Homo sapiens: one gene and its partners. The protein of the gene in region 6 interacts with the protein of the main gene of each other region in a pairwise test. Each region holds a gene or a part of one and is shown on either strand. Other genes may lie near its edges. The genes, in order: ATOSB, RPIA, ATXN7L2, TRAPPC6A, MISP, HSPB8 and SLC16A5.

Region 1 (3,500 bases), on a different chromosome or scaffold from region 6:
GACAGGACAGTCAAGGTTGGTAGGGCCTGAGGGCTGCTTTCCTCTCTCCCCACTCCCACTCCCTCAGGGCAAACTCACCACTTGGACGGTGCCCACCTTGGGCACGCTGTAACCCTTCCTCCCCAAGGGGTTCAGATCCACGATGCCCTGGAAGGCCAGGGAGCCATCAGTCAAGGTGGGGACTAGGAAAACCCTGGGCCCTAAACACATGTCCCTCTCCACAAGCTCTCACCCTGAACCTGCCCCTGCCCTACAGTAGAGTTCTCCTCACCTGGCCCTGACTCACTTCTAGGTGAGGAATAAGTAAGAAATACCTCTTGCCCCCTGGCCCCGCCCCCAAATCCTCATCCTCTTGATGAGCTGACTTTGGGGTTGGAGTCAAGGCATACCAGGAAGGGAGCCGGGGCATTTTGCTCAGAAACATCAAAGAATGTGACAGTGACAGGCAGCGTGACGTGCTGGGGGCAGTATGACCCACTAGCTCCAATTTCTGCTGTGAAGCCCTCAATGTGGCCAGATGGTGCAAAACGTCCTCGCAGCAATGATTCCTGGGATTAGGGTAGGGAAAACACATGAAGAGAGAGATGCCAATTCTTTTCCTTATCCATCCAAGCCACATTCCACCATCCCACCTCTCCCAGGACCCCGGCAATCACAAACCCCAACGGGAGCTACCTCAAAGTTGCCCAGCAGGGTACGGCTGACAGCAGGGGTAGGAACAGGGGAGGCACTGGGGGGGCTCAGCAGGCCTGGCCCCTTCCGGAGGCTTCGAAGGGGGCTCCTGGTAGAGGAAGGGAAACACAGGGGGTTGGCTTGAGGTATTCTGGGATTCCTGCTTATGCCCTTGGACTCCACCCTCTGCCACTATGTAGGGCTTCTGCCCTGGGGTCCCCTACTCGGATGCTGGAAAGAGTACAGACTTCTGCCCCCATTCTCAGGGACAGGGTAGAGGAAAAAGCTGGTCACTTACAGCTTCAGGCGACGGGCTCCTTTCAGCCTCCGCCCCATGGGACCGCAGTCTGTTGGGTCCTACGGAGAGAAATGATTGGGAAAAGACACAGGGTGAAGGCCATGTATGTTTTGGGGCAGAAGCTCATCACAAACTCTCAAAGGAACACCCTGCCCCCCAGGCCTCCACCTTTACCCACACAAATATCCACTTAAGAGTACATGAAGGACAGGCGCAGTGGCTTGAGCGCCTGTAATCACAACACTTTAGAAGGCCAAGGTGGGTCGATGATTTGAGCTCAGGAGTTCGAGACCAGCTTGGGCAACATGGCGAAACCCCATTTCTACCAAAAATACCAAAAATTAGCTGGGTGCAATGTCATGTGCCTGTGGTCCCAGATACTTGGGAGGCTGAGGTTGGAGGATCCCTTGAGCCTGGGAGGAGGAGGTTGCAGTCAGCTGAGATTGTGCCACTGCACTCCAGCAGTGATGGAGTGAGATCCCATCTCAAAAAAAAAAAAAAAAAAAAAAAAGTAAAAAAAGAGTAAATGAGGTCCTTTATTGGCTTACCAAAACAGGCTCTTTGGGCCCAGGCAGCAGGTGGCTCCAGAAGGGTGTGGCTTTGGCATCAGAACTGTTGGCAGCAGTAGGGTGGCCCAGGGATCCCCGGCGCCTCCGAGGGGCTGGCCCCTCTTCCTCAGAGCTGACATCTGGGGCTTCTCCAGCAGGAAGCAGCCTTCGCTTGGTGGGGCAGGGGCCTGGGGGTCCAGGGCCAGGGGGTGTGTGCTCGGGACTGTGCCCATTGGCAGTGCCAGGGGACTCCCTAGGCCAGAGGCTACCCCCATTGCCCACCCCAGCCACTGGGCTCTTACCCCCTATTTGTGCAAGACTGTGCAAATCAGTGTCAAGTGTGTGCAGCTGGCCTGGAGGGGCTGGCCCTGGGGACTCCCCCAGGGACCCCTGTCCCCCTGGATCTGGGGAGGCCCAGTCTCTGGTGTGCAAAGTATTGCAGGAAGCATTTGATGGGGGGCAGGGGGGACTCCAGGCCCCCGAAGTCCAAGATGAGGTGACACTACTTCTCTGTTCCACAACACAGAGGCCACGGTGGGAGAAATGCTGGCTGGCCACACCTAGTCCCAGCCCCGGTCCCTCTGGGCCTAAGAGCCCCACAGTAGATGGTTCTTCAGGGGGTAGTCCCTCTCTGGCCCCCAGCCCAGGGCCTCTCTTCAGCTCCCGGGGACCCTCAGTGGATGGGGCTTGTCGTTTCAGGGCCCTATGAGGCTCAGAGGTACCAGCCGGAGGGGAAAAGATGGATACCTGGTAGACCCCGGGGGATGTCGCCCCCCCTGCTGGGCTGTAGCCCATGAGCAGGCCACCCTGGAGGGCCCCCTGCCTGACTGGAGGCTGTGAAGGGCCAGCCTCCGGCTCTGAGGATGGAGACGGCTCCGCCTGCACGTGGCGCATGAAGCCCCCCTTGGGTCAGGGGGGCCCCCCAACACGGCCTTTATGCTGGGCCTGGGCTGGGGGGCCTGGGGACATCTGTGTAAGAGAAGAGAAGAAAAGGTGGTCAGGGGAATCAATGAGTCTTCTTCCTTCCAGCTGAGTTTCAGACCCTCTCCTTGCCTAAAGGGGTGACTTTGATGGGTTCCCAAGGATGAATGTGTACAAATCCCTGGATGGACTAATGGAATATAGAGACCACTCTCAGAACTCCTGAGAGGGTGACAGGTTTAGCTCAGGCTTCTTACTGGACACACTTCCCCCTCTTCTCCCTGGTACTTACCCCGATGAAGAGGCCTCAAGCCTAGCTGTGCGTCCCCTCTTCCCAACTGATGCCTCGTGCCCCTAGCTTGCAGTCTGATCCATGCCTGCTGCACTGGCAAGGTGACTGCCACCATTCCGTGCAGCTCCTGAGCTCAGCAGGACCCTGAGGAGAGAAGAACAGACGTAAGCCAGGATCACTGGAGCCAGCGGTAAGGCCTGTCACCAATTATAGGCTAATAGTACACTCCAGGACATCCTTCTCCCATGTGAGAGGCTCTTCAGGAACAGAAAGGGTAGGCTTGGGGTCCAGGGCACAGATGGCAGAGTTGGGCTACCTAAGGAGTCAAAGAGGCAGGTCTTGGCTCAGTATAATAAGGATGTGACAAGTGAGTTGAGGTAGAATAACTACTTGTCAGGGCCACCATTTGAGGACTCCTGCCCTACATGGAGGAAGGGATGAGAGACCCCCAAGATCCAAGAGACCGTGTCAGCTGAGAGGCGGCCAGGGGAAGAATTCAGCTTTCTTACTCAAAGCCACCAAATTGCACAACTCCTTCTTATATGTCTATCTCCAAAGGGACAAGTGCCATCCTAGGGCACTAAGGGCAGAGGTCTCCCACACAGTTATACCCCATCAGCGGTCCTCAGAGGTACAAATTTCAAGTCAGCTCAGAGCTGGCCTTTCAGCCCTGAACTCCAAATTGCCTCCAGCAGCCTGTCTCTTTAACAAGAGGCAACAAATCCGACCAAAAACAAGAAGGGGAAGGGGAAGGGGTCACTGCCAGAAG
Region 2 (3,500 bases), on a different chromosome or scaffold from region 6:
CACCCTCACAGAAATGGCCTGCATATAAACACTTAAAGATTCCTGACATTTCAAGCCAGCAACAGTGTGTTTAAAAAAAAAAAAAAAAGAAAGAAAGAAAGAAGAAGAAGAAAGAAAAGAAAAAGATTCCTGGCCAATCCCAGGGAGGCAATTAGAAAAACACCTAAGAAAAAACAATAGAGCCTGGAGCCTGGGTAAGGGAGGAAAGCTAAGGCTTCTGGCTTCAGTGTCTTCCATAGGCACCTTCAAGTTGGTAGCACCACAAGACACATCAGGCCCACCATCTAGAGCTCTCCCAAAGTCAGCAGATAAAGGGAGGGCCTGAAGTAACCTCAAAATAATAAAGTATGTCAGCATCTGCCTAGGTGACACCAAGGGGTGCTCATTTTGCATGAGCCTGCCTCAGAGAAAATGGAAAGAGGGCAAAGGCTTAGTTAAGAACATGAAAAATAGTCTTCATCTGCAATAGAAAGGATCATAATAAATGCAGAGCACTTCCTGAGTACAAAGTACAGGCAGACATCACAATACGGAGCCTACCTACAAGCAGACCAAACAAGAAGAAACAAAGAAGGTACCTACAAGCAGACCAAACAAGAAGAAACAAAGAAGGTACCTGCAAGCAGACCAAAGAGTAAAAGCTCAGCTGAGTCTACTAGACCACAAAGAGCAAAACGAGGCCAGGGTACTAACAGTCAGGAACTAATATGCAGCTCAGTGCCTAAGCAACTTCCTGACATCTATCTCCTGCCTTTGCAAGGCAAAGCCAAGTGAACACCAAAGCGGCAGCTACCATTTATTAAGCACCTACCAAGAAGACTTATAAATGTTAATATAAAGCCAAATCTCACAACAATCACTTATGACCTACAGAGCCACTATTTCCACTTTATAGATGAGTTCAATATTGTAAGGAAAAACTTAAGACTTTGAAATGAGCAAAAGAGACTACTGGATATCCTTCCAATGGGATGCTGGAACCTGCTTGTATTGTCTGACTCTAAGAAGGTATGTGCCTTTGTCTTTAAGATATATGACGACTGTATAGAGATACACTTTAACTTGCAGAAAACTGTTAACAAAGCAAGTAAGTTTTGTTCATTGAAATGCAAATTAATAGTGTTCTGTGAGACACAATTATTAACAGATCTTCTAAATTCATTTTAAGATTTTTTTACTACATATGAGCTTACAGTTGACTTCTCCTGTTATGCTTTGAACATCTCCACCAAAACTCACGTTGAAATTTAATTGCCATTATAACAATATTAAGAAGTGGGACCTTTAAGAGGTGATTAGGTCAGAGGGCTCCACCCTCATGGGTAGGATTGGTGCCCACCCATAGCACTTCAACATCTGTCTCTCTCACCAGATGCCAACGCCTTGATATTGGACTTCGTAGCCTCCAGAAGTATAAGCCAAAACATTTCTGTTCATTATAAATTACTCATTCTCAGGTATTCTATTATAGCAGCACAAAATGGACTAAGACACCTATGAACAGGTTCTAATAACCTTTCCAGTTCCCTCATTAATTTAGTGAGTTAAATAAAATCTTTGACATATATTTGTTTTATATATGTGTGATTTTACCTGTTTTAAATATATATACAAGATATACAATATATCTTGTATATATGTTTATAATATATATAAACTATCAATGCCCCCCCACACACACACAAACTCATCTTCAAACTCCTGGGCTCATACAATCCTACTGCCTCAGCTTCCCACATAGCTAGTACTATGGGAACATGCCACCATGCCCAGCTAATTTTTTTAATTCTTTTAAAAGACACAGTCTCACTCTGCCAACCAGGCTAGTCTCGAACTCCTGGCCTCAAGTGATCATCTCACCTCTGCCTCCCAAAGTGCTGGGATTACAGGATGAGCCATTTCAATCGAATAAGCAACTTCAGGAAGTTCAATTCGCTGAAACATCAATCTATTTCAAATTTCTTAAGATTTCCAACAACTGATTAACAATTAATTTATTTGACAAAGGAAAGCCCATAGTAAAACCTTCTTTTTAGGAAGAAGACAAGTCCTGAAGGGCCCTCAGGACAAGCAGGGCCACAACTAAAATCCTTCATTCCCCACAGGACAAAGGCCATAGGAATACTTAAAGTCAGCCCCTAGGCCTCACATTAGATATGGTCCTTCTCAAAGCCTGACTACATCTATAACTAGAAAAGATTAGAAAGAATGACCAACAAGTAGAGTTACCAAAAAAAAAAAAATCAAATACTAATGTCCCCACAACCATATACATATATACTAAAAATGCTACTATAGCCTCTCCTACCTACAGAAGACTTTATCCAACAACTTTTGTGTTATTGACCTGGTGGAAACTGCTTTTACTAGCTCACAGTTCCAAAGGCACTGAATACATCAGGGGCTTGGGCTGTCAGAACAGGGCTCGCACTAGGTCAGGATTCCACCTATACCAATGCTCTCAAGAAGGCAATGTGTGTAGTAAAGTTGTTTAGCTACCTGGACAATCCCCAAAGGCAAGGACTTCAAGACAAGTAAATGATACATCACAGTACAGAAACATTCAAAATGGCTAAATATCTCACATATAAAAATCTTCAAGGAATGAGAAAATGTCTTATCAAGGCCTATGTCTGAGTGTGGAAAAACTCAAACTTTTTCCTCTGCTCTCACACCACAACAATCATCAACACAGAAGACTTCTGTGATCAAATGTATGGGGATTTCTCCCCGTATCCCAAGCAAGCAATCTACTCTGCAGCAGACACCAGCTGGGTATCCTCCAATTCAATTTCAACACTCTCTACCTGGAGATACCATAAGGTTCCACTGGTTGAGGGCTCAGCTCCCAAGATTGCCTCCTCCTTCCTACCAAATGCAAGTCCAGGCCTCCAGAACTTCTGACTTGACAGCTTCAAGTTGGAGTTTCCACAACACTCTCTTTGGGTTTGATTAACTTGCTAGAGTGGCTCACAGAACTCAGGGAAAACATGTTTACCAGCTTATAAAGGCTATGATGAAGGATATGGATGAAGAGATGCATAGGTAAAGGCATGTAAGAAGGAGCACAGAGCTTCCATGCTCTCTCTAGGCACACCATCCTCCAGGGACCTTCACATGTTCTGCTCTCCAGAAGCTTCCAAACCCTGTCCTCTCGAGCTTTTCTTTTTCTTTTTCTTTTTTTTTTTTTTTTGAGACTTTATTGAATAGGTATGATTGGCTCTTGGAAAAGACCAGGAATTGCAAGGGCCTAGAAATGTGACTGAACAAAAAGGGCATGATCCAATACTAGCAGACTGACTGGGGAAACCCTGCAACGGCTGTCTGTTCAGATTCTTCTTCACCTGCAGCATTCCTTCCTCCAGGGTATGGAACAGGAACCCTTCTGAAATGGGGATCTTATGACGTACAAACAGACAACATAGGTCACAGAATTTCTTTACAGCCAGCTCCAAGACAGAAAAGCATTGGGGAGAGAAAGGAGCAAGTGGAAGGAGGGA
Region 3 (4,186 bases), on a different chromosome or scaffold from region 6:
ATTACCCTACGAGACCTCCCAACTGACCCTGTCCTCAGAGTTCCATGCTCCACCTTCCCCTGTCCCTTTATCTCCTCCCTAGGGCTCCCCTCACCGCAGTGCTTCTGGAAAGCTTGAGGCTTCACCACTTGGCTGCAGTGGTTACACACAACCAAGTAGAAGTCATCATGGGCAGGGCAGTGCCCGAAGATGGACATGTCTGCAATGACAGAAGCCCATGTCACTGGGGCTGAAGATCCCAGGGTTTCTCTGGAAGATCGGAGAGCACTCCCACCCCACACTCAGAAGGCACTTCACCTCCCCGCTGATATAACAAGCTCCATGCTGAATGCTTCCAGCTTCCAGAGTTCGATCTAAGCAGTCCCAAAGGGTATACGCTTTCAGGTGAGTGGGCAATCACCTATGATTATGATCTCCAACGACAGGTCACAGGAGCCAGAACAACCGGCCGACTCGGACCTATCAAAATGAGGGTCCCCAGACAGCTGCTTCAAGCAGCCACCTCCTTCTGTAGTGTGGTGGAAAAGTGGAGCGTGGTCCTGTCTGCCCTGGGTCCCAGCCCTAATGTGTGTCGACTCCCACCTTCTTTAATGAGGGTCATGGCATCCAACTTCTTCGTGTTTTTGCTACTCTCCTCCAGCTCAGCCCCTAGAGGAGAAACACAGCTCAGAAGGGTCAGGGCCAGTTTTAGAGAGTCTCCAGCCTCTCCTTACCAGAGACTGTTCTTCCCAGAAGACAACCCAGAGGTTGTCCCCTTTCCAGAAGCCCCAAGCAGGGCCTGCAGCTCAACAGTATGAAGCCCACACTCCGTGACAAGCTCCTGGTGCTAGGACCACTTGGGGAACCTTTCAGTGGGTCCATTCTCAAATGCCCATCTTCCTTCACCTGCTGCATCTGGACTAAGATGGCCCCACTAAGAAGAATCCATCCACCTTTCTTATGGGACCCTTCACTTCAAGGTGCAGTTTAGGGTTCCACTGCTAACTAGTTGGGTGATTGTGGGTAAGTATCATCTCTTTTCTGGGCCTGCTTCCCCATTTAAAGGGGAAACCGTCCTTAACCAATGTTTCTATAAGTCCCTGAGTCTCTTCTTGAGATTTCTCGATGGGTCCTTTCTGCTACTATGTGGCATCCCAAATAGATACTCTCCCAGGTCCCCACCCCCATGAACTCAATTTTGCTCCACCTGGGTTACCATAGCATTGTCAAAGTTACACCCAGCTTCTCAGGTCCTGCACTGATAGGATGGTCACAGAGCAGAGAAACTGCTGTCTTTGGTCCTTGAGCATCTTCAAAGTCTCCTTGGTCAGCTATGCAAGTCCCTCCCCTTCTTAGAGGGCCTTTGGGCAGGGGTTGCCCTTGTACCTCAGTTTCTGGGTTAATGACAAAAACATCTTAGCTGTGCAAAGCAGCTTTTTCCCCATCCCCCTACCTCTCTCCTCCCCCCTCCCTCCTCTACGCCCCCTCCCTGTCCCTTGGGAAAAAAAAAATCAATTCTGAGTCACCAAACCCGTCTGACTCCATTTCCGGTTCTCAATGCACCCAGACCCTGACAATGGCCCCATCTTTGCCCACCCAGCATGGGGCAGCCCCAGGGTGGCCTGGGCTCCCACTTAGGTCTGCTCTCTGATGCCCATTAACAGATATGCTCCTTTCTAGGATGAGAAGATTGTTGACAATCTTATATAATATCCAGATTATGAGGGGTCGTGGGTTAGGCACGCAAGAGACAAGGGGCAGCTCCCACTCTAAGTCCGTTAAATGCAAGTGCGGGGAATGATGGATAGAACGAAACTGGGAGTCGGATGTCTCAGAGGAGAACAAGTGTCATTAGAGACCCCTCCGTGCAGTCTCCTCCTCCACCTCTTCTCACTTGCAAACTTCTTCAGGGGCGTGATGCCTGCTGTCACCCCGAAAGGCCACGAGGCCAGGTGCTCCCTGGGGCCCAGAAGACAAAGATCAGAAGAAGGGGCTGTAGGCCCGCTCACTAAGGCACTCAGGGGCCTAGAGAAGGTGAGAGTAAGAGCAGAGAGCCAAGAGGCAGGGCAAGAGGCCTGGGAAAGGACAGTGGGTTGGAGGCATGGATGGATGGACCGAAGGATGGAGGGAGGGAGGATAGATGGATGGACGGACGAACTAACGCGGAGAGGGCGGGGGTCTAAAAGCACTGCAGCTGCAGGCAAATGCCGAAAAGGAGCAGGAGGTGTGGGGCAAAAGGCGAAGGAACAAGGGGGGTGAGGAAGGGGGCACAGAAGTGGGGTGCGTGGGAAACACGTGGAGGACTGTTGCGGACAGGGAAAGCTGGAGGCAGGTGCAGGAGGGTCGCGAGCTGAGGGGCAGCAGGCAAGGAGAAAGATAAAGGCAAGCCTATATGGGGGCAGGTATTAGCGACTGGCAGAGGCAGAGGTTGGCAGGGTGGGCTGCGAGCGGTGAGCAGGCGCTAGGACCCGGAGGCGCGAAGGTGACGGAGCGGGCGGGCACTAGGACCCGGCGGGTCCTTTGTTTGGGGGGCCGGGGAGCCGGACGGCGGCTCCAGTCGGCGGCTCCCCTCAGCTGGCGGGGGCCCGGAAGGGGGGAGGGGAGATAGTGATGGGGTCCCCGGACTTTAGGGTGGCTTTACTCACCGTCAGCCGCGGGCAGGTCGGCCCGCTCCACCCACGAGCTCCAGCTCTGTCCCGCGAAGTCATCGAGACTCGGCACCCGCCGCTCCAGAGCGGCCATTGCTGCCGCCGCGCGTTCACGCACCGCCATCACCGCCGCGGACGCGCGCCCGCCCTGGCGCCGCCGCCGCGCGGCCCCCTCCCCCTCGCCCCGTCGCGGGCACGCCTCCCCTCCTCCCCACCTGCCTTTCCAGCGCAGTCTTTGCGCAAGCGCAACACAGGTTGCCTGTTCCCCGCGCCCCCCCCCCCCCCACCCACTCACAGCCTTCTGGGAAGTGTAGTCTTGGAGCGGATGCTATTGCCTACCGAGCTTGCAGCAAGAGTCCCTCCGAAATGCACAATTGCAGGGGGAAAAGAGAAGACCAAAGCTCCAGGACCTCCTCTTCTAACCCTTATGCACACATTATTTGTGCTACCAGTCCACTCTCCCAAGCTCACTGCATCTCTCCCCAGCCCCAAACCTCTCTGCCCAGACGCCCCTCTAAGCCGTGCGTCCGCCAGCTGGCTGGCGCCCCTTCCCGGGCTGGCGGCCACGAAGCGACTCCGCTCCCCTGTAGATCGAATAGGGTAGGTGCAGGGAGGTGGGCGCTGTGAATCAGAAGGGCAAGGGGAGGGAGTCTGTAGGAGGTGCTGAAGGACACAGGGGTGGTGTGGGGGAGGGCCTCGGCTCCCGTGTCGTGCCTCCTCTGTGGGAAACCCACGCTGCCCTGATGCAGAGCAGAGGGTTGGCGTGGCGTTGTCTGGATTTGAGAGGACCTGGCCAAGCTGACCAAGATCACCTGTCATGATGACAGGATGACAGAAGGCTGTCTCCGAGCCAGAGCCAGCCCCAGAACTGGGGTGGCCCCGAGGCAGCTGGTGTTTGCAGCATCTCTGCTGATCTGTCTCTCTTCTCTTGAGAACTGCGATCGATACCCTGTACAGCCTCTTCCCAAACCCTGGCTGGACCCTGACTCCATCCATCACTTTGCCTTCTTTTTCTAATGAATACTTTCTCTGCTGGAAGGGCTGCTTCTGAAGCCTCGGCATAGGGAGATTTCTCATCAGAGCTGTCATCTTCCTTGCTAAGGTCTGGAAAGTACCTTAATCATCCATTTCTTTCATCTTCTCAGCTGATAACATTTCTTCCCACCCTCACACAATCAGACAAAAGTCTGCCTACTCCATTTCCCGCCCCCCCCCCGCCGCCATCGCATTAAAAAAGTAATACTAATCCTTTTTCCTCCTCAACCTCTCACACCTCACCCCCGACGCTTGACCCTTTAGCTAAGGGGAAAACAAGTTGGGGAGCAAGACCTCAGATTTTCTTCTCCTTTTCATCCAGGGAAGGTGTAAGTACTTCAAGAATAATCTCTGAGGGCAGGGAATCTCAACCTGAGACCCACAGATGATCCCTAGGGCATCCAGGAATCAGGTAAAAATTAAATGTTCAATTGTACCCAAGGTATTTTTCTAGGGGATGTAAATGTAGTGTGTGACTCTCTGAAGAGGGATAGAGGTGCAAGTTTGTTCAACAAGAAGCTGAT
Region 4 (3,500 bases), on a different chromosome or scaffold from region 6:
CGTGATTCACCCACCTCGGCCTCCCAAAGTGCTGGGATTATAGGCGTGAGCCACCGCGCCCGGCCCTGACCCTGTCTTAAAAAATAAATAAAAAACAAAAAACCAGTAAGACATTTACTCGCTTCCTCCAGCTCAGGGTCCTGGGTGGCCAGAGCCCGTCCTGGCAGGGCCAAAAGCAGGAATGGACCCTGGACAGAACGCCATCCCATCACAGGGCGCACACGGGCCCACACTCACTCACACTGGGCCCACGGAGACCCGGGAGCTCACCCAGCGGACACATCCCAAGGATGCACAAGGAAAGGAGAGCCCAGAGGAACTTGCACCAGCACAGGGAGAACCCACAACCACCACCCAGACAATGGTCCCGGGAATCATTATTTTTTCCTCATCAATGTCACAACAAAATGTTATTCCAGGACCGGCATACTGTGTGGCAGGCGTTTTCTACAGCCTTCTTGTTTTACCTTTCCAGCCTCACAGAAGGCTGTAATTCCAGGTGGAAACAGGGGCTCTGAGGTTAAGAAGAACCCATCCAAGGCACCCTCAGCACGGGACTGTCTTTCACACCCCAGCAGGTCCAGATAGGAGGGTGGGTGGGGTGACAGCCATGGCTGTTGAGGGCCTCACGGAGGTGAGGAGCGCTGGGAATGGCGGGGGGGCCTGAGCTGAGGTCGCCCATATCTGAAGCCAAGGTGGCCCTTCCTCTGCCTGGCCCCTTGCCAGGCCTCGCCCTCATGGGTGACAACGACACGGCTTCCTGTTGCACTGTCTCCCTCTGGTGTCACCATCTGCTTTCCTCCAGTGTCCTCAGGCACAGCAGGGCCGGCCACACAGCAGAGGCTCATGGAAGGGGCCGATGACTGCAGGAGACGGGCAGGTGTGTGTGAGAGACAGAGTGGGAAGAGACCCCTGCCCGTGGGTCCTTCATGGCAGCACTACCAGCGGCGCAGGTGCAGAGCCACCGCCTGGGTCCAGATCCGCCCCAGCACTTACCAGTGTGGGACCTGGGCCAATGGCTGAATACCTGTGCCTCAGTTTCCTCATGTAAAAAAGAGGGTCATTTTGTTTGTTTTTGAGATAGGGTCTCATTCTGTCACCCAGGCTGGAGTGCAATGGCACGATCTTGGCTCACTGCAGCCTCTACCTCCTGGGTTCAGGTGATCCTCCTACCTCTGCCTCCCAAGTAGCTGGGACTACAGGTGTGAGCCACTGCGTCCAGCCCAAAGGAGGGGAATATTAATGGCAGCTACCTCCAGGATCCTCACAAGGAGTAAGGGTTGGTAAAGGCAACCTGAGTACTTCAAGGCAGTTCCGGGAGCCTTACTTATTGCATTCACAGCCTCCACATCTGTCAAACAAGGAGACGGCCCCAGCCAATGAGGGATGAAGCCCTTGGCTGGAGGAGAACCCCAGGAAGGAAGGGGGTCTGTTCTGTGGGCTCCTGTAGCCAGCACCTAGAACAGCCCGGGCGAGAGCTCGCTGCCTGGTAGCTGCGGCTCCCGTGTCACCTCCTCCCACAGCGAAGCTCCTGGAGGCAGGGCCCAGGCTGCACTCTGAGGGAACACGTCTGTGTCCACAGCAAAGCTCCCAGAGGCAGGGCCAGGCTGCACTCTGGTGGAACACGTCTGTGTCCCCACTCGCTAAGGGCTCCTTTATGTCCCTCCCTCATTCATGCCACAGACATTTCCTAGTGTCCTCCAGGAGCTCACCTACCTTGCCTGGCAGGGTTGACAGGTGCCCAAATGATGCCAACTGACAATCTGGGAAGGGCTGGGAGACTGAGTGCAAGGGGCCCGGGCAGTGCAGTGCAGAGCCTGCCCTCCAGGAGGGGGCCGGAGGTGGCAGGTATTCCAAGCAAAGGGCATGTGCCAAGGCAGGGGTGAGAGGCGGGGAAGGGAAGGGGCCCTCAGAGTGGGCTGCAGAGGGGGCATTTTCCCCTGCAGGCAAGTGCAGCCAACCTGAGGGTCAACGCAGGCCACGTTGCCTGAATGCCAGCCACAGTGGGCCACAGACTCAGTCCCTGCCCTGCTGGAGCTGGCGTTTCACCCGGGGAATGGGCAAAGGTGCAATGGCCGGCTTCACTATGCTCACAGCGACTGCCAAGAGGGAGGCAGGTGTGCTGCGAGGGTGCACTCCCACCCCTAGGAAGCACCCCGACTGTGCTGAGCCTGAGGGAAGAGGGGGAGTTCAACAGCAGGAGTGGGCTGTGAAGGCACACCAGGCCCAGGTCACAGCCAGGACGGCAGCCCCCGGAGGGGTGAGCTGGGGGAGAGAGTCAGCAGGGTCCTTCAGCCAGGCCAGGAGCGTGGAGTCTGAAGGGGTTCCAGCAAGTTCAGCTTTTCCCTTCATGAACTTCACACTGCCTGGGTTTGAATCTCGGCCCCGCCACTCACTGGCTCTGTGACCTTGGGCAGATTAGCCAACCATCCCGTGCCTCAGTTTCCCCACATGTGCCATGGGGCTAATGGCAGTACCTGCTCACAGTGGTGGTGTGACTGGCAGGTGGCAACAGCTGGATACACGGCTGTGTGACTGCTGGCCCCACTGTACCCAGCCCTGGACAGGGGCCATTCAGATCCTGGCTGAACTGAAAAGGGCTGTGGGGAATCACAGCAAAAGGGAGGGGCCGAGGAGGAGCAGGAGGCAGGGAAGAAAGGGCGGAGGAGGAAGGGAGAAGCCTCCACCCACCTCATCACAGCGAGACCTGGTGGTGTCCATGCCCATGTCACTGCAAAAGCTCTTCAGAGGTTAGGGGTTTATCTTTCTTAAAAACAGAAGGGGCTGGGCGCGGGGGCTCTTGCCTGTAATCCCAGCACTTTGGGAAGCCAAGGCGGGAGGATCACTTGAGGTTAGGAGTTTGAGACCAGCCTGGCCAACATGGCAAAACCCTGTCTCTACTGAAAATACAAAAATTAGCCGGGCGTGGTGGCGCACGCCTATAATCCCAGCTATTCAGGAGGCTGAGCCACCAGGATCGCTTGAACCCGGGAGGCAGAGGTTTCAGTGAGCTGAGATCACACCAACACATTCCAGCCTGGGTGACAGAGCGAGACTCAGTCACAAAACAAAACAAAACAAAACAAAACAAAACAAAACAGAAGGGCTGGCCAGACAGAGACTCTCCCATTCATATGAATCTGCCAGAGCCCAGCCCAGAGCCGGTGCATTTCTGGGGCTCCCCACGCCTGCCTCTGCTGAGTTTACACACAGACCGGATGAAAGGAAAGGTGGAAGGGAAGTCTTATCAGTGTCGGTGCTAATGACATCCACCACACAGGAAGGATCAATCAGACACAAAGCAGAGTTCCTGGAAATGAACAAATATGGTGGCCAAAATCAACACTTTTTAACAAGGGAACTGAATAACAGAGAAACCTGTAAGACAGATAACACCTCCCAGAAGAAAAACAGGAGGGAGGAAAAAATGAGAGAAAAGCTACAGGATGCTTGGAAGAGATGCAGGAAGTCTAATATTCCCTGTGGTGCCTACAGGACAT
Region 5 (3,500 bases), on a different chromosome or scaffold from region 6:
CCTGCAGGGGTCCCCCTGGCCGGGGAGCTATGAGGGGCCCCCTTGTTCGCCTGCTCCAGACTCAGGAACTGCTGTCTCGCTGCCAGGAAGTCAATCTGCTCCCTGTCAACCACGTTCTCCTCCAGGGGCGTGGACCGAGGTGGGCCGGGGGTCCTGGGGTCTCCGTGGTCAGGAGTGCCCTGGAGCGTGGCCACGGTGCTGCTCTTCCTGACTGCCTGGCCCTGGATGACGGCCCAGCGCTCCCGCTCCAGGTCACACAGCCTCCTGGGGTCAGCGTCCCCAGCATCCAGGCGGTAGGTCTTCATCTCCTTGTCCTCCCCGTCCTCTGGGCGGAGTGCCCATGTTGGACGTCCCTGGTGGGCATCCCTGGCGCCCAGGCGGTAAACCTGCCAACCCTCATCCTCCCTGTTCTCCGAGTGGAGCCCCCGTGGGGACGGCTGGCCAGTGTAGGCATGCACGCTGTAGGACACCCCCTGCCTCTGCACGCCCTGCTGGGCCCTGTGGTCAGTGGGCCATGTCTGCGGCTCATCCTGGCCCCAGCCGCTGGCCTCGGGGCCCATGCACACCAGATGGTATGTGTAGCTGGTGTCTCCATCCAGCACCAGGCCGGTGCCACGGTGTGCCTGAGGGATGCCCAGGATGGGGTATCTGGTCACGCGGTCCATCTCTTCCGGGGTCTTGGCCTCAGCCTTCCTCCCGTGGGGTGGAGACCTCTGGGCTTACTGAGGGAGGAGAAGGAAATGAGGGCCATCAAGTCAGAGCACCTAGGGAGAGGAACAGCCTCCAGTCCCCCAAAGGGCAAAGGGTCCATCAAATGGCCTTTGTGATTGGTTTAGGGATGGGTAAGTGACACAGTCCAGCCACTCAGAGCAGCCCATTCTCTAACCTCTGTGATTGGTTTAGGGGTGCGTAAGTGACAGTCCAGCCAATCAGTGCATCCCATTCTCTAACCTCTGTGATTGGTTTAGGGGTGCGTGACACAGTACAGCCACTCAGAGCAGCCCATTGTCTAATCTCTGTGATTGGCTAAGGGATAGGTAAGTAACTCAGCCTGGCCAATCAGAGCATCCCACCTTCTGGCCTCTGTGATTGGTTCAAGGATGAGTAAATGGCCCAGCCTGGCCAGTCAGAGTAGCCCATTCTCTGGCCTCTGTGATTGGTTCAGGGATGGGTAAGTGACTCATCCTGATCAATCAGAGCATCCCACCCACTGGCCTCTGTGATTGGTTCAAAGATGGGTAAGTGACCTAGTCCAGCCAGTGAGAGCATTTCACCCTCTGGCCTCTGTAATTGGTTCAGAGATGAGCATGTGACCCAGTCTAGCCAATGACATGAGACCCTGGGACTTTACAATTAATGCAGAAGATGGGACCCTCTTCCCGCTGGTCTTGTTAGGCTGATGGAATGAGATAGTGAATTGCTGGGGACGTAAATGCCCCCAGTGGGTACAGCTTGCTTGACAGCAACCCCAACACCAGCAAAGCATCCTGAAAACTTTTAAGCTCCCTGATTCCAACCATACCTGAATCTCTGAATGTCCCGGTTACTACCCCAACAACTCGCATTATATGTTTCTAACATTTGCAGCCCAATAAAATCAGGGTGCCCTGCCCACCTTATCTCCCAGACACACACACCTGCCCTGTGGAGTCCAGCTCAGCCTTGATTTTTTTTTTTTTGAGATGGAGTCTCGCTCTGTTGCCCAGCCTGGAGTGCAGTGGCACAATGTCAGCTCACTGCAACCTCTGCTTCCAGGTTCAAGCAATTCTCGTGCCTCAGCCTCCTGAGTAGCTGGGATTACAGGCGCTAACCTCCCAAGTCCGGCTAATTTTTTGTATTTTTAGTAGAGACGAGGTCTCACCATGTTGGCCAGGTTGGTCTCGAACTCCTGAGCTCAGGTGATCTGCCCGCCTCGGCCTCCCAAAGTGCTGGAATTACAGGCGTGAGCCACCGCGCCTGGCCTCAGCCTTGATCTCTGAAGCCTTCCTTGGCCGCACCATATTTATCTGTGTCTCCTGTGCACTGAGCCTTTCCACCCTGAGCTCACTCTGAGACTCCTGGTGTGGGATTTTTCCATCTGACAATTACAGATGGCCCCTTGCTAAGGGATGTCAAATGGAGAAACTGAGGCCCAGAGAGAAGGACTGACAGCAACTCCAGTTTCCCGGCTCCCACATCCTGGTTCTCCACCCTGCCCTGCCCAGCTGGACACCTCGTCCCATCTGAGACAACATCCCCGCCTGGGCCTTGTCGCCATAAAGCCAGGATGGGCAAAGGAACACCGTGGACCTTGTCCCGCTGGGCCCAGGTGGGGCCGTGGAGCGAGCGGGTGACACCCTGACCCAGTGCCTTCCGGCTCTCGCCCTCTCCCAAGGGTCCAGGTTGCTGCTGGGCTCAGTTCCAGGAGCCTTCCCGGAGGTCACACACCTGCTCGCATCGCTTCTGTGGCTCCTGGCATCTGCAGGGCACAGTTCTCACACCCTGCTCCTGGCCTTAGCACGAAACCCCAATTTCTGTGGGCACCTCCACCCCAAGCCAGGCCCTCCTCTTCTACCCCAAACCAGACCCTCCTCTTCCACCCCAAACCAGGCCCTCCTCTTCCACCCCAAACCAGGCCCTCTTCCTCCACCCCAAGCCAGGCCCTCCTCTTCCACCCCAAACCAGACCCTCCTCTTCCACCCAAACCAGACCCTCCTCTTCCACCCAAACCAGGCCCTCTTCCTCCAACCCAAACCAGACCCTCCTCTTCCACCCCAAACCAGGCCCTCTTCCTCCACCCCAAACCTCGCCCTCCTCCTCTACCTGCAGCTCTCTCTGTCTCGAGGCTGCCTGTTTCTGCTTCTCCACGGCTTCCTCTGCTGAAGCCCATGGACACCTCCTCCAGGAAGTAACCCAGATTGCCCCTCCCCCAGAGCCATCATCTGAACACCTCCTTCATGTCAGGCCTTGTACCCAGCACCCGTCTTAGGTATTGTCTTTTGTTTTGAGACAGAGTCTCGCTGCGATGCACAGGCTGGACTGCGGTAGCGTGATCTCAGCTCACTGCAATCTCCACCTCCCGGGTTCAAGCAATTCTCCTGCCTCAGCCTCCTGAGTAGCTGGGACTACGGGCACCCGCCCCCACACCCGGCTAATTTTTTCTTTTTTTTGAGGCGGAGTCTCACTCTGTCGCCCAGGCTGGAGTGCAGTGGCGCGATCTCGGCTCCCTGCAAGCTCTGCCTCCCAGGTTCACGCCATTCTCCTGCCTCAGCCTCCCTAGAGCTGGGACTACGGGCGCCCGCCACCACGCCTGGCTAATTTTTTGTATTTTTAGTAGAGACGGGGTTTCACCATATTAGCCAGGATGGTCTTGATCTCCTGACCTCGTGATCCTCCCGCCTCGGCCTCCCAAAGTGTTGGGATTACAGGCGTGAGCCACCGCGCCCAGCCAGGACACCCGGCTAATTTTTGTATTGTTAGTAGAGACGGGTTTCACCATGTTGGCCAGGCTGGTCTTGAAC
Region 6 (3,158 bases):
CATATTAGTGATCTCATTGGGGTGCCATTATTTTTTTTAACCATGAAATCCATGACCTTCTGAGTACTTTCTATGTGCCAGGTACTTTAGCTGAATCATATCATTTTGGTGTTAACAATAATCCCACCAGGCAGATTCCATTGCTATCCCCATCTTACAGATGAGGAAATTGAGACTCAGAGAAGTGAACTGCTTTGCCCAAGGTTGCTCAGCTGGCAAATGGCAGATAGGAAATGGAATTGGAATCCTGGTCTCCAAACTCAGAGTATCTGACCATGATGCTCTCCTGCCTCCCCCAGCACCAGACATTTGAAAGAAGGACTATGGCAGGAAGGACCGGCAGTTCAATCAAAATCTTTCCACTGATCCCTGCTGGCTCTGCCTATTGTAAATACGAGGGTCTTGATGAAAGAACCAAGGCATGAGGTAAGCCCATTCCTGATCATAGGCAGGACTCCTTCTGGAGGGGCTGGGGAGTTTTTTTTTTTTCTTTCTTTCTTTCTTTTTTTGTGGGTACAACAACCTGTAGCCACATGAGCCGTATCTACCCAGGAGATTCCTTGCCAGATTGGAACCATGGAGATGAACAAGGCTGCTTCTGGGAAGCCCATTTGGAAGAAAAAGAGGGAACTAGAAAGCTGCCAAGTCAAGCTTTTGAAGCGGAGACAAAGTCAAAAGTTTAGACCTCCCTCCCAATGCTGGGGATGGGCTGACTGTTTAACCATGTGCACACCAACCCAGTGCACACCAGGTACAGTGTGACAGGGTGGCTATGGCCTAGAGCATGGGTTTTGCAGGCAGGCTGACGTGCATTCAAATTCTGACTCTTCCTGACCACACAACATGGGGCTGGTGATCTTGACTCTTTGAACCTGTTTCTTTGCAGAAAAAAAGGGGGCAATAATAGTACCCACCTCTTAGGGTGGAGTGAGAATTACGTTGCAGTCTTTGACCTTACATGTTGGCATCTTGACAGCAAGATGGAGTATCATACAAATTGCAGGATCATTGAACCACAGAGTATCAGGGCCCCAAAGGATCTTCCTGATTGTCCATGACAATGCTCTTATATTACTTATGGGGAAACTGAAACTCAGAGAGATAGACAAGTCCAAGGTCTCTAACCAAGTGACTTGTATTTAAACCCATTTGGTGGGAAAGTAATTCCTCTTCAGTTCTCTTTCAGTGCTTCTACTTACATCTGAAGGAATGTCTCTGCTAAGTACTAACATGCCTTTAACGCCTTTAGCCTCTATCACTTGCTACCTTCCCTTTTTAACAATGAGAGAGCTGAGGCCCTTAGGCAGGCAATATTATCTAGTTAGAATTTAACCACAGTTTGCTTTCATTGGATTTATTTCATGATCGCTTTCCTCAGTGAACATTTCAGTGATAAGAATTTAACTTTATCAAAAATGAGATGATCTAAAAGAAAAAAAAACCTTTAGTAAATCATGGTACAGCAATGTAAGCATATAAGGCAAAAAATAGTGAAGATGGGATGTGAATGACGGTATTGCAAATGACTGTAATTTGGTTTCCCCTAACCAAATAGGAAGATCATGGACTTTGAAAGCTGAGACCCAAGACCTCTCCCTCTCCTCCTTATTCAGTCCAAATGGGGCTTTTCACACAGAGATGGATGTGTTGAGATGAATTTCCTTGCCATGGTTAAGGCAAACAGCTGCAGCATCCTGCCTGGGTGGAAATCTCCAAGGATCTCAGCCTGGCTGAAGGAATCTCCCTGTCCTCTAATGACTGGAGTTTTCCCTGGGAGAGGAGGCAACGAGGACTCCTGAGATTGGTCCAGAGGTGTCCCAGACCCCAGTTCGACTCCTAGGTGTCTAGAGTCTGGGCAGAGCCAGGAGCTCCCAGGAGTCCCAGCTGCTGGAGTGTGAGTCCAGCCTTGTGAAGCCTTTTCATAATATTAATTCCCATGGACCAAGCCCTGAGTCTGTATTCCATGCTTAATGCGTTATACACATCCTCTCACTCCCATCACAACCCCTCCATGCAGGGATGTGGGAATGGAAGGTCAGAGCAGTTAAGCAAGTTGCCCCAAGTTACCCACTCACTTTCTCATGGAGCCAGGACTCCCTGCACCCGGAGCTGAGATTCAAAATATTTAACAACTAGTGCAGCTGGGCACTGACCATTCAGAAGGGATGGGTGCATGTCATAGTGATGGAGGAGGGTCCTGGGACCCTTTAGTTGTTGGAAGGTGGAGAGGTTTAGAGGGTCCTGGGGACAAGATCAGAGTGACTGGGGTTGGCTAGGGAGGGCTCAGGGCAATAGCTAGCCAATATTCAGGGGTCCCCATCCCCCGGATCATGGACCGGCACCCATCTGTGGCCTGTTAGGAACCAGGCTTCACATCAGGAGGTGAGCAGCAGTTCAGCCAGCATTACTGCCTGAGCTCCGCCTCCTGTCAGATCAGCAGTGGCATTAGATTCTCATAGGAGCTTGAACCCTGTTGTGAACTGTGCATGCGAGGGATCTAGGTTGCATGCTTCTTATGAGAATCTAATGCCCGATGATCTGAGGTGGAACAGTTTCATTCCCCAGTCCATGGAAAAATTGCCTTCTACGAAACTGGTCCCTGGTGCCAAAAAGGTTGGGGACCACTGAATATTTTAACAACTAGCCCAGCTCAGCAGCTGAGCACCAGCCTGGAGCAATTTCAGGCATTTCTCATCAGGTTACTTCCAGCAAGCTATCTCCCCTAAGGCCTTGGAGCATGTGAAATACACACACACACACACACACACACACACACACACACACACCCCTTTTAAGATGATTAATTCACTTCTTTCTTACACAGTCCCTTTTACAGCTATGCCCTGCTTGTGACTCCACCCTGAGACCTCATTTGAGCCTTGACATCAGCTTCCCCCCACCCCCTGCCTTCCTTCCTCTCCCTCAGCAATGTTTAATCTGCTTGCTAAACCAGGGAGAGGTGTGGGGCACGGAGATGCCAGGCAAGCCAGCAAACACGAAGAACAAATGGTTTGGCGTTTGCCTTATCAGGAAGTGTCCACAGGCTTCCAAGAACTGCAGAGGCTGTGGGAGGGCCAGGGACGGACATGTGGGGGAAGAGACAGGAATGTAGAATCCCAAGCTGGAAGAAGCCTCAGAATTCAGCTAGTGTGATCTCT
Region 7 (3,500 bases), on a different chromosome or scaffold from region 6:
AGTAGCTGGGATTTACAGGTGCCCGCCACCACACCCAGCTAATTTTTTTGTATTTTTAGTAGAGATGGGGTTTCACCACGTTAGCCATGTTGGTCTCGATCTCCTGACCTCGTGATCCACCCGCCTCAGCCTCCCAAAGTGCTGGGATTACAGGCGTGAGCCACCGCACCTGGTCACAAACCCATGCTTTTTTTTTTTTCTTTTTGAGGCGGAGTCTCGCTTTGTTGCCCAGCCTGGAGTGCAGTGGCGCAATCTCAGCTCACTGCAAGCTCTGCCTCCTGTGTTCATGCCATTCTCCTGCCTCAGCCTCCCGAGTAGCTGGGACTACAGGCGCCCATCACAACGCCCAACTAATTTTTTTGTATTTTTAGTAGAGACGGGGTTTCACCATGTTGGCCAGGATGGTCTCGATCTCCTGACCTCATGATCTGCCCGCCCCGGCCTCCCAAAGTGCTGGGATTACAGGCATGAGCCACCGCGCCGGGCCAAACCCATGTTTTTAACTGTTCATACTCTGAGTGCCAGGTTGGAAACCAGCTGTAGCACAACCTCTGGAGATGCTGGACTGGGCCCAGATCTGTCTAAACTGTTCCCCTTTTACCACACTATCTGGCTGCCCTCCCTCCCAGCTCCTCACCGGCCAGTGGTGGGGAGATGAGGAAAGCAAGGCCGTCCAGGACAGTGAAGAGTCCCAGGGCTCTGGGGAACTGATCCATGGGGACGATGTCCATGAGAACCTGGAAGATGAGGGCGCCGATGCCACTCATGGACACGCTGTACGCCAGGCAGTAGCCCACGAGCACCCAGAAGTCACCTGATGCCGCACACACCAGGTTAGTGAGCCCATTGAGCAGGAGTGCCAGGCTGAACAGGTACTTGCGGTGGCTAGCAAAGGCCGGCCGTCCTGCCATCAGCCCGGCTAGGGGCCTCAGGAAGATGTTGCTGAAGCCGATGATGGAGATGAGGAGGGCTGCCTGCTGCTCGTCCACGCTGTGCCACATGGCATATGGCACCAGGAAGACTTGTGGCAGTGGGAAGCCCAGGACGGACCACATCACACCCAGTATGTACACGCAGTAGCCTGTGTTGTGCCGCAGGATGTCGAAGGCCAGGTGGCGCTGGATGGTCCGGCCGCATGCAGCCAGGCAGCCAAGTGCAGGTGTCTCGGGAGGTGGCGGGGGACATTCTTTGGTCTCAGGGGCCACACTGGTGGCCACAGGCCTTATGATGGCCCCGCAGATGCAGCAGTGGAGAAAGATCCCGCCGAAGACAAGGAAGGTACCCCTCCAGCCCAGGTTCTCCAGAAGGTAGCGGGAGAGCAGCGGCCAGAGGGTGATGCCCAGGGAGACGCCCATCGAGGCCAGCGCGTTGGCCAGCACCCGCCGGCGGACAAAGTAGAAGCCCAGCACCGTGATGCTTGACTGGAAGCTGAAGCACATGCCCAGGCCTGCGGGGCAAGAGGGGAAACCAGCCTGGAGGCGCACTGGGGCCTTCCACCTGCACCCAGGGGTGGGGTCAGTGGTCATTTCACACACCTGCCCTCCTCTGGTTCTAGTCCATACCCAGCTCCAAGTCCCTGGGGACTGACCATGGAATCAGCTGGCCTCGCCACCTCCCTGTAGGCACCCCACCCCAGATCTGCCCTCCCAAGGCTGCCAGGGCATCCCTGTTCCCCTAGGTGTAGCACGAGAGTTATCTTTTAAAAACCCAAATTGGGCCGAGCGCGGTGGCTCACGCCTGTAATCCCAGCACTTTGGGAGGCCAAGGTTGGCGGATCACTTGAGGTCAGGAGTTCGAGACCAACATGGTGAAACCCCATCTCTACTAAAAATACAAAAAAATTAGCCAGGCTTAGTGGCAGGCGCCTGTAGTCTGTAATAGCTACCTAGGAGGCTGAGTCAGGAGAATCACTTGAACCCGGGAAGTGGAGGTTGCAGTGAGCTGAGGTTGTGGAGGTTGCAGTGAGCTGAGATTGTGCCACTGCACTCCAGCCTGGGCAACAGAGTGAGACTCTGTCTCAAAAACAAACAAACCCCAAATTGGATTAAGTCTCTCTTGGCTTAACACCTTCCAAAGACTTCCCATCACACTTGACAAAAAATCCACAGTCTCCACAATGCCCTGGAAGGCTCTCTGTGGTCCGGCTCCAGCCCGCCTCTCAGATGCCATCTCAGGCTGCTCCCTGTCACTCATTAGGATCAAGACACAGGAACTTCTTTCTCTGCCTCTGGACATGAAGCTGCCCCTACCTCGGGTTATTTGTAGCTGCTGTTCCTTCTTGGAATCTGCTTCCTCCAGACTTTCCACTCTCCTCTCAGTTCAGACGCCACCTCTCCAGAGGGGCCTTCCCCGCTCCCCACCCACTCAGTGTCTGCACCTGCACACCTGAGCATGCTGGAGAAAAAGTTCTCAATCATGTGTGACCGTGGCCTCAGGCGGGCCCTCAGGCTGCCTGTGACGCCACTACAGCTCCCTCAATCATGCCTTGCCTGCCCTGCTAGGTGACTACCGGTGTCTTCCTCTGTGCCCCCCAACACCTCCTCCCTATCCTTATGCTCAGCTGCCCACATGCCTGCTAGCCAGTGACAATGGCTTGCCCATTCCCCCAGTGGCTGTCCCTCCCTTCTGCCCTGCATCCTCTCCACTCAGAGGCACCCCTCTAGCAAGTCCCCTCTCTCCTGCATCATCCTTTTTCTCTTCTTTCCTAGATCCTTCTCCTTCGTTATTTCTCCCATTAAAAACAAACAAACAAACAAACAAAAAAAGCCTGTCTTGACCTCATAACCACTTCTGGGTATAGTCTGTTCCTCCAGTCCCCTTAAAACAAAATGCCGTGAAAGGGCTGGGCATGATGGGCTCACACCTGTAATCCCAGCACTTTGTTTTTTGTGTTTTTGAGATGGGGTCTTGCTCTGTTGCCCAGGCTGGAGTACAGTGGTGCGATCTTGGCTCACTGCAACCTCCACTTCCCGGGCGATTCTCCTGCCTCAGCCTCGAGTAGCTGGGACTACAGGGGCCCGCCACCAAGCCTGGCTAATTTTTGTATTTTTTTTAGTATAGACAGGGTTTCACCATGTTGGCCGGGCTAGTCTCGAACCCCTGACCTCAGGTGATCTGCCCGCCTCAGCCTCCCAAAGTGCTGGGATAACAGGTGTGAGCCACCGCACCCAGCCAGCAGTTCCAGAAGATTAAGAGGCCTGCCTGCCCTGTCCACTTGTGCCTGGCACTTTCTAGCAGGTGCCTATAAATTCTGGAGATGAAGTGATAGTCACCTGTGATGAATCCTGCTGTGAAGTAGAGCTGGCTGAGGTTGTGAGAGAAGGAGCTGGCCACCATGCCCAGGCTGGCCAGCACGCCCCCCAGCATCACGGTCACTCGGCAGCCGAAGCGTCCCACCAGGATGCTGCACAGGGGCCCTGTGGGAGAAGACAGCCAGCAGGTAGCAGCTGAATGAGGAGGTGGCGGGAGAGGAGGAGAGTGGCTGGAGAGGGCAGTTCCAG

What was found.
Region 1: the proteins of HSPB8 (region 6) and ATOSB interact in binary tests that used the Homo sapiens proteins (3 or more experiments, as listed by UniProt).
Region 2: the proteins of HSPB8 (region 6) and RPIA interact in binary tests that used the Homo sapiens proteins (3 or more experiments, as listed by UniProt).
Region 3: the proteins of HSPB8 (region 6) and ATXN7L2 interact in a two-hybrid assay, tested with the Homo sapiens proteins (one large-scale study listed by BioGRID).
Region 4: the proteins of HSPB8 (region 6) and TRAPPC6A interact in binary tests that used the Homo sapiens proteins (3 or more experiments, as listed by UniProt).
Region 5: the proteins of HSPB8 (region 6) and MISP interact in binary tests that used the Homo sapiens proteins (3 or more experiments, as listed by UniProt).
Region 7: the proteins of HSPB8 (region 6) and SLC16A5 interact in binary tests that used the Homo sapiens proteins (3 or more experiments, as listed by UniProt).

The regions. Positions count from the first base shown.
Region 1 is NC_000009.12:35,105,863-35,109,362, forward strand, and holds part of ATOSB (atos homolog protein B), read right to left. Parts: exon of another isoform or gene 3,343-3,500; intron 2,876-3,342; 5' UTR 2,732-2,875; intron 2,488-2,731; 5' UTR 2,413-2,487; coding exon 1,519-2,412; intron 1,030-1,518; coding exon 971-1,029; intron 782-970; coding exon 676-781; intron 549-675; coding exon 390-548; intron 148-389; coding exon 79-147; intron 1-78. UniProt on the Homo sapiens protein: Transcription regulator that may syncronize transcriptional and translational programs.
Region 2 is NC_000002.12:88,694,673-88,698,172, reverse strand, and holds part of RPIA (ribose-5-phosphate isomerase), read right to left. Parts: intron 1-3,500. UniProt on the Homo sapiens protein: Catalyzes the reversible conversion of ribose-5-phosphate to ribulose 5-phosphate and participates in the first step of the non-oxidative branch of the pentose phosphate pathway.
Region 3 is NC_000001.11:109,482,519-109,486,704, reverse strand, and holds the start of ATXN7L2 (ataxin-7-like protein 2), read right to left. Parts: upstream 2,801-4,186; 5' UTR 2,752-2,800; coding exon 2,625-2,751; intron 2,575-2,624; exon of another isoform or gene 1,874-2,574; intron 1,374-1,873; exon of another isoform or gene 649-1,373; coding exon 583-648; intron 200-582; coding exon 95-199; intron 1-94.
Region 4 is NC_000019.10:45,168,238-45,171,737, forward strand, and holds part of TRAPPC6A (trafficking protein particle complex subunit 6A), read right to left. Parts: intron 1-3,500. UniProt on the Homo sapiens protein: May play a role in vesicular transport during the biogenesis of melanosomes.
Region 5 is NC_000019.10:754,112-757,611, reverse strand, and holds part of MISP (mitotic interactor and substrate of PLK1), read right to left. Parts: intron 3,166-3,500; exon of another isoform or gene 2,803-3,165; intron 723-2,802; 5' UTR 666-722; coding exon 1-665. UniProt on the Homo sapiens protein: Plays a role in mitotic spindle orientation and mitotic progression.
Region 6 is NC_000012.12:119,188,931-119,192,088, reverse strand, and holds part of HSPB8 (heat shock protein beta-8), read right to left. Parts: intron 1-3,158. UniProt on the Homo sapiens protein: Involved in the chaperone-assisted selective autophagy (CASA), a crucial process for protein quality control, particularly in mechanical strained cells and tissues such as muscle. Displays temperature-dependent chaperone activity.
Region 7 is NC_000017.11:75,097,954-75,101,453, reverse strand, and holds part of SLC16A5 (monocarboxylate transporter 6), read right to left. Parts: intron 3,417-3,500; coding exon 3,273-3,416; intron 1,498-3,272; coding exon of another isoform or gene 1,448-1,497; coding exon 638-1,447; intron 1-637. UniProt on the Homo sapiens protein: Proton-linked monocarboxylate transporter.